Linked DNA regions of Homo sapiens. The protein of the gene in region 1 binds, or shares a complex with, the protein of each later gene. Each region holds a gene or a part of one and is shown on either strand. Other genes may lie near its edges.

Evidence for each region. Proteins that work in one complex are often made in the same cells at the same time.
Region 2: the proteins of SIRT5 (region 1) and PRDX1 are in contact, whole or in part, in a crystal structure (PDB 8Z54), measured with the Homo sapiens proteins. Residues at the interface, in NP_001363727.1 of Homo sapiens: Ala86, Tyr102, Arg105, Gln140, Ile142, His158, Val220, Val221, Trp222, Phe223, Gly224, Glu225, Asn226, Leu227, Leu232, Val253, Val254, Tyr255, Pro256; in NP_001189360.1 of Homo sapiens: Phe195, Ser196, Lys197, Gln198.

What each region holds. Positions count from the first base shown.
Region 1 is NC_000006.12:13,598,588-13,605,610, reverse strand, and holds part of SIRT5 (NAD-dependent protein deacylase sirtuin-5, mitochondrial), read right to left. Parts: intron 6,582-7,023; exon of another isoform or gene 6,580-6,581; coding exon 6,456-6,579; exon of another isoform or gene 5,970-6,455; intron 4,778-5,969; coding exon 4,662-4,777; intron 4,531-4,661; coding exon of another isoform or gene 4,491-4,530; exon of another isoform or gene 3,974-4,490; intron 1,136-3,973; coding exon of another isoform or gene 1,093-1,135; exon of another isoform or gene 1-1,092. UniProt on the Homo sapiens protein: NAD-dependent lysine demalonylase, desuccinylase and deglutarylase that specifically removes malonyl, succinyl and glutaryl groups on target proteins.
Region 2 is NC_000001.11:45,518,862-45,526,326, forward strand, and holds the start of PRDX1 (peroxiredoxin-1), read right to left. Parts: upstream 3,024-7,465; 5' UTR 2,968-3,023; exon of another isoform or gene 2,748-2,967; intron 194-2,747; 5' UTR 183-193; coding exon 77-182; intron 1-76. UniProt on the Homo sapiens protein: Thiol-specific peroxidase that catalyzes the reduction of hydrogen peroxide and organic hydroperoxides to water and alcohols, respectively.

The DNA of each region.
Region 1 (7,023 bases):
ATACATTCCTGTGGGAGGAGAATTCTATGCCTTTGTCACTAGATTAGAACTGGGGCAAAGAATCTGAACAACTTGTGTAAGGCCTAAGGTGTCTTGTGAGATCCAAATCCTTATTAAAATATAGGCAGCATTCTAGCTGCCTATTTAGGTAACAAAGAAAATCAGGTTAAAAGTAGCAGAGAACATTATTCCATTTTTTTTTTCTCCGTAACCTAGAGCAGGGGTTAGAAAACTTTTTCTGTAAAGGGCCACACAGGACATATTTTAGGCTTTGCAGACCAGCCAGTCTCTGTTGCAACTATTCACCTCTGTCATCCTAATGCAAAAGCAGCCACACACAATATACAAACATATGGCCACAGCTGTGTTCCAATGAAACCTTATTTACAGATACAGGTGGTGGGCAAATTTGGCCCACAGGCAGTAGTTTGCTGACCCCTGACCTAGGGTAAAGTTCAACCAAAATCTGTTAAGCACGAGATATACAATTCTGCCATTGTTAAGCTCTGTGTTTAAACAGTCCTCTCAATTGCTCCAGGGTTGGTTTCTGCCTTTGAAAAATTGAGTAGGATGAGATGACTATCACCAGCATCTCTTCTAAATGTCAGCTTTGATGATGCCAAGAAAAAAGCATTGCTGGCTTCATTGATCAGTTACTCCTTCATTGATGAGATGACAGTTCTTGTGGTCAGTCTGGTTGATAAGTAGCTTGCCAAATTGATAAGAATTTCTAACTAGCAAGTAGCCTGTTTGTTAGAGACAATCATAGGTTTTCAAGACAATATGAAGCTGAAGAATTTTGGCTGAAGTAGCAGCTGAAACAGGTCTGTGGTTTTAGGAGGCTTGACTTGAGCAGTGATATATATTACATGCCAAGAATCTCTCCTGAACTGGCAGGAAAAACCACCAAGTTCAGTTTCTTTCACATGAAGACACAGCCACCATATCCAAGGGATGCTGGGCCCCTGCTGCTCAGTCCATGGCATGGGAGGTGGGGGCCAACTCTAAACTTGGGTTGTGGAAATACTCCAGTTTTATTTTCTTCTTTTTCTCTATCTGCATTTTCTTGCTTTTCTACAATGATGACTTGTTTTAATTCTTTATAATAATTAGAGATGAGATGGAGATCAAATGACTGAAAAGAAACCACATTAGAAGAACCAAACTGGGGACATAGCTCAGGTCCTGCTTCACAAAGTTTATCCTGTCCCACTCTTCGAGTTTTCTGATGGTCTTTCAAACAGACAGGAGGCTTGAGCTGCCTAGCTCCGGTATTACTACGCTTAGTCATGCTAAGTGGCCCAGCTGCTCCACATAGGTGCCACAACACAAATCAGACGGAGGCTCAATGTGCATTTTTCAGGAGATAAGTTAGAAGATCATTTAACTTTTTATCTAACAGCTTTATTGAGATTTGATTCACATACAATCCACCTATTTCAAATATATAATTCAGTGGCTTTTAGTGTATTCACAGAATTATACAACCATCACCACAATCAACTTTAGAGCATTTTTAACAACCTCAAAGAAACTTGTTCTCATTAGCACCCACTCCCAATTCCTCCCTACTCCCAGCCAAAACAACCACTCATCTACCTTCTCTCTATTGATCTGCCTATTCTAGATATTTCGTATAAATGAAGTCATACCATATATGGTCTTTTATGACTGGCTTCTTTCACTTAGCATAACGTTTTCAAGGGTCATCCATGTAGTAGCATGTATGGATATCTCGTTCTTTTTATGGCTAAAATATAGTCCATTGTACAAACATACCAAATTTTATTTATTCATCCTTCAGTCGATGGACGTTTGGGTTGTTTCTACTTTTTCCATTAACAAGTTGCTATGAACATTTGTGTACAGATTTTTGTGTAGATGTATGATTTCATTTCTAGGACTATATACCAAGGAGTAGAATTGCTAGATCATATAGTAACCCTATATTTAAATGCCACATTGTTTTCTAAAATGACTGCGCCATTGTACATTCTCATCAGCCATGTATGAGGGTTCCAATTTCCTCACCAACACTTGTGATTTTCCTTTATCTTAAAAATTATAGCCACGCTTGTGGCTGTGAAGTGGTATCTCACTGTGGTTTTGCTACTGAACATCATTTCAATATGCTTATTGGCCATGTGTATATATTTGGAGAAATGTCTTTTCAAATATTTTGACCTGGTTTTTAATTGGATTGTCTTTTTATTATTTATAGTTGTAAGAGTTCTTTATATATCCTGGATACAAATCCCTTATCAAATATCAAATATTAGACTTACAAATATTTTCTCCGATTCTATGGGTTGTCTTTTTTTTTTTTTTTTTTTTGAGACGGAGTCTGGCTCTGTCGCCCAGGCTGGAGTGCAGTGGCGCGATCTCGGCTCACTGCAAGCTCCACCTCCCGGGTTCACGCCATTCTCCAGCCTCAGCCTCCCGAGTAGCTGGGACTACAGACGCCCACCACCACGCCCGGCTAATTTTTTGTATTTTTAGTAGAGACGGGGTTTCACCGTGTTAACCAGGATGGTCTCGATCTCCTGACCTCATGATCCACCTGCCTCGGCCTCCCAAAGTGCTGGGATTACAGGCGTGAGCCACCGCACCCGGCCTGTGGGTTGTCTTTTTACTTAATCGATGGTACCCATTGGAATACAGAAGTTTTAAATTTTGATAAAGTCCAATTTATCCATTTTTCTTATGTTACTTGCTCTTTTGGTGTCATATCTAAGAAAGCTTTAACCCAAGGTTACAAAGATTTACTCCTACATTTTCTTTTGACATTTTATACTTTTAGCTCTTACATTTAGGTCTATGATCCATTTTGGGTTATTTTTTGTAATGGTGTGACAGAGGGGTCCAAGCTTATTCTTTTGCATGTGGGTATCCAGCACTATTTCTTGAAAAAGACTGTATTTCATCAAATTGTCTTGCCACTCTTTTCAAAAATCAGTTGACCATGAATGTGAGGTTTGTTTTATTGTTCTGTTTTGTTTTGTTTTTTACTGGACTCTCAATTCTACTCCACTGATTCTATATATCTATCCTATGCCAGTGCCACACTGTCTTGATTACTGCAACTTTGTAGTAAGTTTTTTTTTTTTTTTGAGACGGAGTTTTACTCTTGTTGCCCAGGCTGGAGTGCAATGGCACAATCTCGGCTCACTGCAACCTCCCCCTCCCAGGTTCAAGCGATTCTCCTGCCTCAGCCTCCCAAGTAGCTGGGATTACAGGCATGTGCCATCATGCCTAGTTAATACATAGTAAGTTTTGAAATTGGGAAGTATGAGTTCTCCAACTTCATTTTTCATTTTGTTTTGGCTATTTTGGGTCCCTTGCATTTTCATATGAATTTTAGATTAATCTTTTCAATTAATTGCTGTCAAAAGCCAGTTGTGATTTTGATAGGGACTGAGTTGATTGAGCCCATAGATCAATTTGGGGAGCATTGCCATCTTAATCATATTAAGTTGTCCAATCCATGAACACTGGATATGTTTCCATTCATTTAGGCCTTCCTTATTTCTTTCAATAATGTTCTGTAGTTTTCAGAGTATAAGTTTTGCATAGGAGGCAATTTTTTTTTAAGGCTATCTTCTTAGTTCCTACTACTCACACACAGATGAAGAACTATGGATCAAGAACACAGGCTGTAGCTGATCAAAAAGACACATGGAAAAGAAGAGGCTCAGAGCCAGTTCACTCACTTGAGGAGGGGCCTACTGAAGTGTCTGTGGCCCCTTTTCTTTCTTTTTTCTTTTTTTTTTTTAAATCCCAGCAAAGACTTAGAAGAGTGGTTCCTATCCTGGCTGCACACAGGAATCACCTAGGAAGCTTATCAAAATGATGATGTCTGGGCTGCAACTCAGAGCAATGACATCGAAATTTCATGAGGTGGCACCCAGGCATCAGTATTTTTAAAATATGCAGCCAAGGTTGGAAACTGTTGATTAAAGTAATGACAAGATGGTTCAATGAAGTTTTCTATTTTATTCATTTATATTAATTTACTACTTATTTATATTCTAACTTATTCAAAAGGAATTAACTAGATGGACAAGAATTAGAGGTAAAAGCAAAAAAAAGTTGGGGTGAGAAAAAAGACAGAACATGGATGAAGAAATAAAACAGACCCAGGAATAAGACTAAAAATGCATACTATGACAATCTACACTTCCCACCCAAACTTGGGAAGCAGGATCAGTGTCATAATATGGCCACAGATACAAATAACCTTGGCGATTAGACCAAAGGGGTATCTGCCAGGTGGCCTCCCAGTAAGAACGGCAGGTGATGAGGTTCTGCAAGGGCATCTCCCAGGCTTACTTGCGGAGCATTTGGGTAACCTACAACTACAGGTCATCACTAAGTCTAGCTTAAAAATGTAAGGGAAAGCAAAGCCTAAGGAATCCAAGAAGAGCGTTCAAAATGTGAACAAACAAAAGTCCCACGGCAAATTTCGCATACAATGACAGAGCTACCCTACCTTAGTCTACAGTGAATGATTTTGTTCTTCCATAAAAGCAACTGCAGATCAAACAAAAAAACACAAACCCTATGTCTTTTTTAAAAATTAGAGGAGTAGGTCAACTATGTTTAGATGACCATGTCTGTACCTGCCTCCCACATCTCCCTCTCCCATCAGGGTATCCCAGTACCTGAATCTGTTCGTAGCTGGGGTGGTCTCCGTGTTAAATTCAGCCACTGGCACGCCCCTGGCAGCCACCTGGGGGGCAAACATGGCTGCTGGGTACACCACAGAGGAAGTGCCCACCTACAAGGCAAGTACACGGAGATGAACAAACAGCCAGACGACAAGGAGAAGGAACATTATTTCAGAAAACCTTACACAAACTCAGGCAGGTCTGTGGTTGCAGGTGTGAGAAAAGCCAAACAGGATGGGATAAAACAGGGTGTCCAAGGGACAAGGGAAAGTGAAGAGGTGTCCTTTGATCAATCACTAGAATCGAGAAGAATATGTGACATGAAAAGGAGAGTTATGCAAAGAGTGACATAGAAGTGACTCAATCAACATGTTTTGGGGTTAATTCTGGTTTTGTTTCTGCTTTTTAAAGTTAAACAAATGATCCATAACTTTTTAAAACATATTTTCTATCTTTTTGTTTAAGGTAGAAAATACGAAGAAAAAAACATACATATCATCCATAATCTTACCGCAAGATAACCACTGTTAACATTTTCATGTATGTCCTCTTAGGTTTTCTCTTATAAATATTTGCTTATAAACATTCTTTACAGGGATGGGAAGAGCATGACCTGTTTTGTAAACCGGCTTTTCTCATTTAACAATCCATCATCAACAGTGGCACTATACTCAACACTGGGAAGCATTCTTTAAATACTGGCTGAATGAATACGCACCACAAGAAAGTGCCTCTGCTTTTAAAGACGTGTCAAGAAAAATTTGAAATACGCATACAATCTGTCCAATGAATCCCACTTTTAGGAAATGTGTCCTAAGGAAATCATTTGAAGAGCATGCTAAGATTTCTATCTAAGGATATTCACGATATCATTGATTAAACTATCAAAATTTGAAATAGCCCAAATGTCTTACAGTAGAGAATTAGCTAAATATATCATTCCTTATCCATATATAACACCATACAGTCAATTGAAAGATGATATTGATTTAGACATATTGATATGGAACATGCTAAGTGAACTGCTGCGTGAACAAAGTAGTTTCAAAACAGAACATATGTCATGAACTCAGTTTTGAATTTTAATTAATACGTGTACATCTGCATAAGAAAAGGTTTAGACCAGAGGTGGGCAAACTTATTCTGAAAATGACCATACAGTAAATTTTTCAGGCTTTGCAGGCCATTCAATCTCTGTCACAAGTACTCAACTCTGCCACTTGTAGTTTGAAAGTAGTCATAGACAGTGTGTGGAAGAATGAGTGTGGCTGAGTTCCAATAAAACTTTATTTCCAAAAACAGGTAGCAGGCCCAATGTGGCCCAAAGGCTGCTGTTTGCTCACTCCTGGGTCTAGAAGAAAACATACTAAACTGCTAACGGTAACTATTTCTGGATAGCAGAACTATGGGCGATTTCTAATTTCCTCTTTATAATGTGATAATTTTTGCATGTTCTCAATTAAATTTAATCATAAGCATGTATTATTTAAAAAACCAATAGCATGTTCTTTTCTTTGTTTTTGGTGGGGCTGGGGGAGGAGGCTTTGAGATGCCCAAGACATGCATGGTTTCCTATTTTAATACAAATTCTTATTCATTGTTTCTCAGTTTTTCTATAGGATACCACAAAGACCTCTCAACATACATTTGAAGGAAAGGAAGAAATGGAGGGAGGAGAGAAGGCGGGAAGGAAAGAAGCAAGGGAGGGAGGAAGGAAAAGAGGAGAGGGGGAAGGAAAAAATAACAAACTCCAGTCCTGTCCTGGGGTTAGGGAAGGGCATGACCCACCACTAGACATAAATCACAGTGGGCGAGCTCTCTGTCAACCTCCTCCAGAATGGCAGGATCCAGGTTTTCTCCAAACCACACGACGTGAGGTCGCAGCAAGCCCCCGCAGCCTGCCTCTTCACACCTGGAAGAATGGGATCCTTAAGCCAACCCCGAGCCAAGTCTGCCCAGCTGGATCGGAGGGAGGCCAGGGGCTGCCCCAAACCTAGTACATCCAGATGGGTCACCTCTGATGCCTCTTATTCCCTACACCCTCCCTCCCAGCCTATATAAACTTGCCTTGCTTATGAAGCATCAGGTTTAATGGTCTTTTTTTTTTTTTTTTTTTTTGAGACGGAGTCTCACTCTGCTGCCCAGGCGGAAGTGCAATGCCATGGTCTCCGCTCACTGCAACCTCTGCCTCCCAGGTTCAAGCAATTCTGCCTCAGCCTCCCGAGCAGCTGGGACTACAGTCATGTGTGACCACACCCAGCTAATTTTCGTATTCTTAGTAGAGACATGTTTCACCACATTCGCCGGGCTGGTCTCAAACTGCTGACCTCAGGTGATCTGCCCTCCTCGGCCTCCC
Region 2 (7,465 bases), on another chromosome or scaffold:
TTGACACAAATCTAACAAGCCACCCCTAGAATATAAAATAACTCCATCTCAATGAGCCCAGTGTTAATTCTCTCACCTTTGTAGTCAGACAGGCTGATATCTTTAAACTGACCATCTGGCATAACAGCTGTGGCTTTGAAGTTGGGGGCAGGGTGCCCAATTTTAGCATTTCCTGAAGACATCTTCCTATCAGCTAGAAATAACAGAAATGAATTAGAAACAAGCCTTAATTTTCTACATAACCAGCAGCCTTCACCTACTTAAAGAGACTTAGCTGTAAACAATCAAGGCATTGTCCAGTGTCCCTGAATACATTAAATGTTGTTTTAGTAAGAAGCTCCAGCCAGCAGTCAAGGGTCACAGTCTGAGCTTTCCAACTTTTGGAACGAAACAAGTCTCTGAATCTCAGCCTTTGTTTTCATTTAAAAACAGCAAGGCAATTTCTTTATATACTGAGATAACCTCTCATTCTTTCTGAACCATAATTAGTGCAGTGGCATCTTATTCATTATACAGAAGCAGAGAGAGAGGCAGATGAAGACTCTCAAACCAGAATCCAAATGCACAATGCCACAAACACTTTTGTTTGGCTCCCCAAAAGTCACGTTGACCTTTCCCATCACTGTGCCTCCACCTGCCTTCATAACATCAGAAGCATATTTGACTTTTCTCCAGGTAGCTTTGTCCAAGACAGCACACAACCTATAACTAATTCAACTTGTTTTATTTGTTTTTGTTTTGTTTTGTTTTTTTGACGGAGTTTCGCTCTTGGGGCCCAGGCTGGAATGCAATGGCATTATCTCGGCTCACTGCAACCTCCACCTCTCAGGTTCAAGGGATTCTCCTGCCTCAGCCTCCATAGTAGCTGGGATTACAGGCGCAGGCCACCACACCCGGCTAATTTTTTTGTACTTCTATTAGAGACGGGATTTCTCCATGTTGGTCAGGCTAGTCTCAAACTCCTCACCTCAGATGATTGCCCAACTCAGTCTCCCAAAATGCTGGGATTACAGGCGTGAGCCACCGCGCCCTTCCAGTCAGTCCAACTTTTAAGAGGCAAGACCACTGGGCGCAGTGTCTCACACCTGTAATCCCAGCACTTTGAGAGGCTCAGGCGGGCGGATCACCGGGTCAGGAGTTCGAGACCAGTCTGGCCAACATGGTGAAACCCCGTCTCTACTAGAAACACAAAAATTAGTCGGGCGTGGTGGTGCATGCCTGTAATCGCAACTACTCAGGAGGCTGAAGCAGGAGAATCACTTGAACCCGGGAGGCAGAGGTTGCAGTAAGCTGAGATCGCGCCACTGCACTCCAGCCTGGGCAACAGAGTGAGACTCTGTCTCCAAAAAAAAAAAAAAAAAAAAGAGGCAAGACCAAGATATTGATTGGCATCTGCTTAATTTCAAATCTTTAGGTATTGTGTAAGCCCTAGAATTCCCTTCACCATTTGTGAAGGTGGGTTCCTGACTTTGGGGCTAATATCCCAGGGCGAAAACAAGTATAAGAATCAATTTACTGCTGAAAAGGAAGGTTGCACTGGATTCACCCAGATCAACACCAAGATTAGTATTGAGATCTTGGCCAAGCGCTGTGGCTCAAGCCTGTAATCCCAGCACTTTGGGAGGCCGAGGCAGGCAGATCACCTGAGGTCAGAAGTTCGAGACCAGCCTGGCCATCATAGTGAAACCCCGTCTCTAACAAAAATACAAAAAATTAGCCGGGGGTGGTGGCACGCGCCTGCAGTCCCAGCTACTCGGGAGGCTGAGGCAGGAGAATGGCGTGAACCCGGGAGGCGGAGGCTGCAGTGAGCCGAGATCCAGCCACTGCACTCCAGCCTGGGCGACAGAGCGAGACTCCGTCTCAAAAAAAAAAAAAAAAAAAAAATACAAAAATTAGCCGGGGCTTGGTGGCACAAGCCTGTAATCCCAGCTACTCCTAAGGCTGAGGCAGAAGAATTGCTTGAATTCGGGAGACAGGGGTTGCAGTAAGCCGAGACCGCGCCACTGCACTCCAGCCTGGCCGACAGAGCGAGACTCTAGCTCAAAAAACAGAGATTTAACCCACTAAGCCGCGGTCTGAAAGCTTTTCCAAGTCCCAAAGTTCTTAGTTCACAATACCACAAGCAAAAGAAATTTTGTAAGCATGGATCTTAGCAAACTTTTAACTGTTTTTTAAAAAGTCCTTAACACCTTTAACGACAAAAAACAAAAACCAAAAACTAAGGCATGCTGCAACTTGGTGCCCCCAAATGGCCTTCTCGTCCAATCCTTCTTTCCCAAGTGGCCCCCAAGTACAAAACCCAACCAATTCGGGGTAAAGGCTGCTGGGATTCAGGCCGCCACCGGGCCCCTTCAGGGGATCTGCCCAGCGTAGAGGGCCACATCCCTAAACCCCACTTCAGGTGCCCCCTGTCCCTCCCCAGCACTGGAGAAAGCACCAGCAGAGAGAGTGCTTCAGCGGGGACATTTGGGCTCATCGCTAACTCCATTCCACGTACAGGAAAATAAAGACGGGGAAAGGGTACCCGAAGCTCCGCAGCTAGTCAAGGCTCAGGACCCGGAACAGCCAAATACATAGAGGCTGTCTTCTACAGCCACGAGTCTGGATACAGGTCCATTCCAGAAGCTTCCCGAACCCACCCCGTCCGGCAGGAGGCTAGTCTCGGAGACCCCCACCACCAGCCCGCCCAGACGCCGCGCCACGTGCTCGAGTTGCCGGGGGAAGACTCGACTCGAGTCCACGCTTGCCTTGGGGTTCAACCAGGTTCCCGCACCTACGTGGGGGGCCCACGAGAGGGGTGTGCGCAGCGCTCAAGCAGTCTCGGACTCCGGGCCTCCCCCGGCTGCCTCACGCATCACAGCACCCCCACCCGAGCGCGGGCGGGCCCCGGACAGGAGGAGGAAGAGGCAACAGGCAAGAAGGGCGCGCCGCGCCTCACTCCGCAGGGGCCGCACTGCCCACACTCACCAGTCCCAACACAAGTCGCAGAAACTAACCACCGACACCAGGCAAGAACAAGACGCGCAAGAGCTCTCCGGGGCGCTGCCTTTATAGCCAGTAGGGATCTCGCGAGAGTCGGAACGGACGGGGGTGCCGGAGGAGGAGAGAGAGGAGGGGGATGTGGCCCGAGCCCCGCCCGGCGCGCCCCGCCGGAATGACTCGGCGCTTTCCCTCGTTGGGGCGGGTGCGGAAAAATACTAATACCCCACCCTGTTGCGGATGGCTGAGGTTGGAGTGAGGCGCCCTTGTGGCCGCTCCCGAACCCGAACGCTTAGGTTAATCCTAGATCTCTGCGGAAAACCAGGATTCTCTTTACTTCCAGGACCACTACGCACTGTGCCCTCAATGCCCAAACTGGAGTAAGCGTCTTAGCTGCTGCCCACGGAGGACCACGTCTAACCACACCAAGCCATGAGAACTGTCTATCCAAATATTTCTTAAGTTCGCAGCCTTAACCCCAGCGCAGATCCTCAGTAACCCTCATGGCTTAGATAGCTTCCTTCATTGTTCTCTTTAATTACAGGGTTGCTGCTTTCTGTTGTAAAGGAAAATAAAATATCAGGACTCCTAAACTTACGCCAGAGGGAAAGTTCATCTTGGGAGGCTGATTCAGTTACACGACCATCCTCTCCCCGGATGAATAATTTGACTTTACAATCTTGAGTCAAAACATTACACATTAGCCAGACCCACACGGTAAGGCAAAAGGCCTCAGACATTTCCTGATGACTACCCCCCACAAACACACATACACAAAATCATAATTAATTATTTGCTCCCCTGGAAACCTTTAAAGTATGTAGCCTCCCATAAAACAAGGACGTGTCAATTGCAACTAGATCTACAATATAAAGTCTAGTTCCTAAAACTAAAGTTTGTTCTATTCCACATTTTTTTGAGACGGAGTCTCACTCACCCTGTCGCCCAGGCTGTAGTGCAGTGGCACGGTGTTGGCTTACTGCAACCTCCACCTCCCGGGCTCAAGCGATTCTCCCGCCTCACCTCCGGAGTGTCTGGGACTACAAGCACGCACCACCACGCCCAGCTAATTTTTTGTATTTTTAGTAGAGACGAGGTTTCATCATGTTGGCTAGGCTGGTCTCCAACGCCTGACCTCAGGTGATCCGCCCGCCTTGGCCTCCCAAAGTGCTAGGAATGTAAGCGCGAGCCACCGCACCTGGCCTCTATTCCACAAATTCCATAAATGTTCACTACTAGATTACCTTTCTACTAGACTACTTTCTACCTTTCTAGTAGTACCTTACTACTAGATTACCCTGAGTCCACCACATAATTGTTTTCTTCCTCCATTCCCTTTTTCTTCAAACATTCACCTTATCTTATGTAAAAATGTAGATTTAGGCCACCTAGGAGGGCGGATCATAAGGTCAGGAGATCGAGACCATCCTGGCCAACATGGTGAAACCCTGTCTCTGCTAAAATACAAAAACTTAGCCGAGTGTGGTGGCGCGCCTGTAGTCCTAGCTACTTGGGAGGCTGAGGCAGGGGAATCGCTTGAACCCGGAGGCAGAGGTTGCAGTGAGCCGAGAGCACCACTGCACTCCAGCCTGGCAACAGAGCAAGACTCCGTCTCAAAAAACAAAACGTAGATTTCCTGAGCATTAGCTAAAGTCTTTGCCTCAATCTTTCCCACCCCCACTTTTCAAGGAAAATGTATAAATACTAAAAACCTCCTGAGAACCTCTTGGGAAGAAACAGCCACAAAAGTGTCTGTGACATGGTTTAGTCAGTTTAGTCACTCATTTCAATTAACACTATCTCTTATCCATCCCTTCCACTGCAGCTGAAGGAAATCTTTCTGAAGTCTGATCATGTCACTGTTATTCGTGGTTTAAAAGCTGGGGAAGAAACAGCCACAAAAGTGTCTGTGACATGGTTTAGTCAGTTTAGTCACTCATTTCAATTAACACTATCTCTTATCCATCCCTTCCACTGCAGCTGAAGGAAATCTTTCTGAAGTCTGATCATGTCACTGTTATTCGTGGTTTAAAAGCTGGGGCTAAAGAAAGAAAGAAAGTAAAATTTAAAAAGAAAAGAAAAATAAAAAATAAAATAAAAGCTGAGGCTCTGTAGTCAATTTACTGAGTTAAAACTCCTCACTGTCAGGGCCGGGCGCGGTGGTTCATGTCTGTAATCCCAGCACTTTGGGAGGCTGAGGAGGGCAGATCACCTGAGGTCAGGAGTTCGAGACCAGCCTAACGTGGAGAAACCCCATCTCTACTAAAAATACAAAATTAGCCACGTGTGGTGGCGCATGTCTGTAATCCCAGCTACTCTGGAGGCTGAGGCAGGTGAATCGCTTGAATCAGGGAGGCAGAGGTTGCAGTGAGCTGAGATAGCGCCATTGCACTCCAGCCTGGGCAACAAGAGCGAAACTCTGTCTCAAAAAAAAACACACACACACAAACACAAAAACTCCTCACTGTAATTTTAGGTGTGAACTTGGGCAAGTCTTAAACTCATTAAACCTTACTTTTCTCAACTGTAAAATGGGAATAATATTAATACTTTATTGTGATTATCTATGTAGTTCAGTACAGTACTTAGTTCTTATTATAAATTAGAAATGTTAGCTGCTATTAGTATAACTCTTCCATCCTTCACACTTATAACACCCAGAACACAGTGTAGTTGTTTCAAGCCTTCAGACTTTTTTTTTTAAGATGGAATTTCGCTTTTCTTGCCCAGGCAGGAGTGCAATGGCACGACTTCTGCTCACTGCACCCTCCACCTCCAGCGTTCAAGCAATTCTCCTGCCTCAGCCTCCCAAGTAGCTGGGATTACAGGCGCCCACCACCACGCCCGGCTAATTTTTTGTATTTTTAGTAGAGACGGGGTTTCAGTATGTCAGCCAGGCTGGTCTCAAACTCCTGACCTCAGTTGATCTACCTGCCTCAGCCTCCCAAAGTGCTGGGATTACAGGAGTGAGCCACTGAGCCCGGCCGCCTTCAGACTTTTGTTTGAACCTGGAAAACTCTTTCCCTGGAGAAAACATGTCTTTCAGCATTACTTTCTCTCCGGCTGTTTCTTACCTTTACTCATTCCCAGGATTTACAATTCCCCTCCTTTGTGTCCAAACAATAGCTTGTATAGCCAAAAAAATCTTTTAAGCAATTTTAGTTTTACATTTCTTCCTCTGCCTGCTAGAGTGACTTTCTGGAGAGTAGGATGTGGGTGACATCTGTCTCTGTGTCCCCAAAGTCACAACAAAGCATCTGATATAAAATAGGAGCTCAGTCAGTGAGCATTCAATCAATAGTATCATGTTTCTGTCTCTGTCCCCAGCTCCCTCACTAACTCCCTTGGCCCTTATAGTGGGATAATGAATGAGGAAGTGCTGTCTCATGCTCATTGAGCATCTCAATTTTTGTTATTTATCATACTACTTTGCATAGACGTGATTTATTTGCTTTTTCCTTCTTTGCCTGAGGCTGAATAGTTAGTTGGCATTATTCCTTTTTTTAATTTTTATGTAACTTTTATTCTTTTTTATCAGGCAGCCACCCGAGCCAGCAGCCAGCGTAGGCTCAGAGAGACTCCCCTTTCTTTCTTGCAGGAGCAAGGGCAGCATGAAAGTTCAGAGCTTAATAATGGATGGTTATTGGCTATGGGCAGGCTAAACCAATACACAGTACATACAGTCATACTTCAGCCCAAAGAAAATTGCCACCTATTGTATTCACCATATGCCAGGCATTGGGCTGGGCACTTGAGTTTATTTTTCTAATTCAAGAACAAGGCCAGGCACGGTGGCTCATGCCTGTAATCCCAGCACTTTGGGAGGCTAAGGCGGGCAGATCACAAGGTCAGGAGTTTGAGACCAGCCTGGCCAACATGGAGAAATCCCATCTCTACTAAAAATACAAAAATTAGCTGGGTTTCGTGGTGTGCACCTGTAGTCCCAGCTACTCAGGGGGCTGAGGCAGGAGAATCTCTTGAACCCAGGAGGCGGAGGTTGCAGTGAGCCGAGATCGCGCCACTGCACTCCAGCCTGAGTGACAGAGTGAGACTCCGTCTAAAAAAAAAGAACAAAAGCCGGGCATGGTGGCTCAAGCCTGTAATCCCAGCACTTTGGGAGGCCAAGGTGGGCAGATCATGAGGTCAGTAGTTCCAGACCAGCCTGACCAACATGGTGAAAACCTGTTTCTACTAAAAATACAAAAATTAGCTGGGCGTGGTGGCAGGCACTTGCAATCCCAGCTACTCAGGAGGCTGCAGCAGGAGAATCACTTGAACCCGGGAGGCAGAGGTTTTAGTGAGCTGAGATCCCGCCACTGCACTCCAACCTGGGCAACAGAGCAAGACTCTGTCTCAAAAAAAAAAAAAAAGAAAAAAGAAAAAAAGAAAAGAAAAAAGAACTAAAAGAGAGTGGAGCACATTTGGCATGTGACTATAGTCCCAGCTACTTGGTAGGCTGAGGTGAGAGGATCACTTGAGCCCTGGA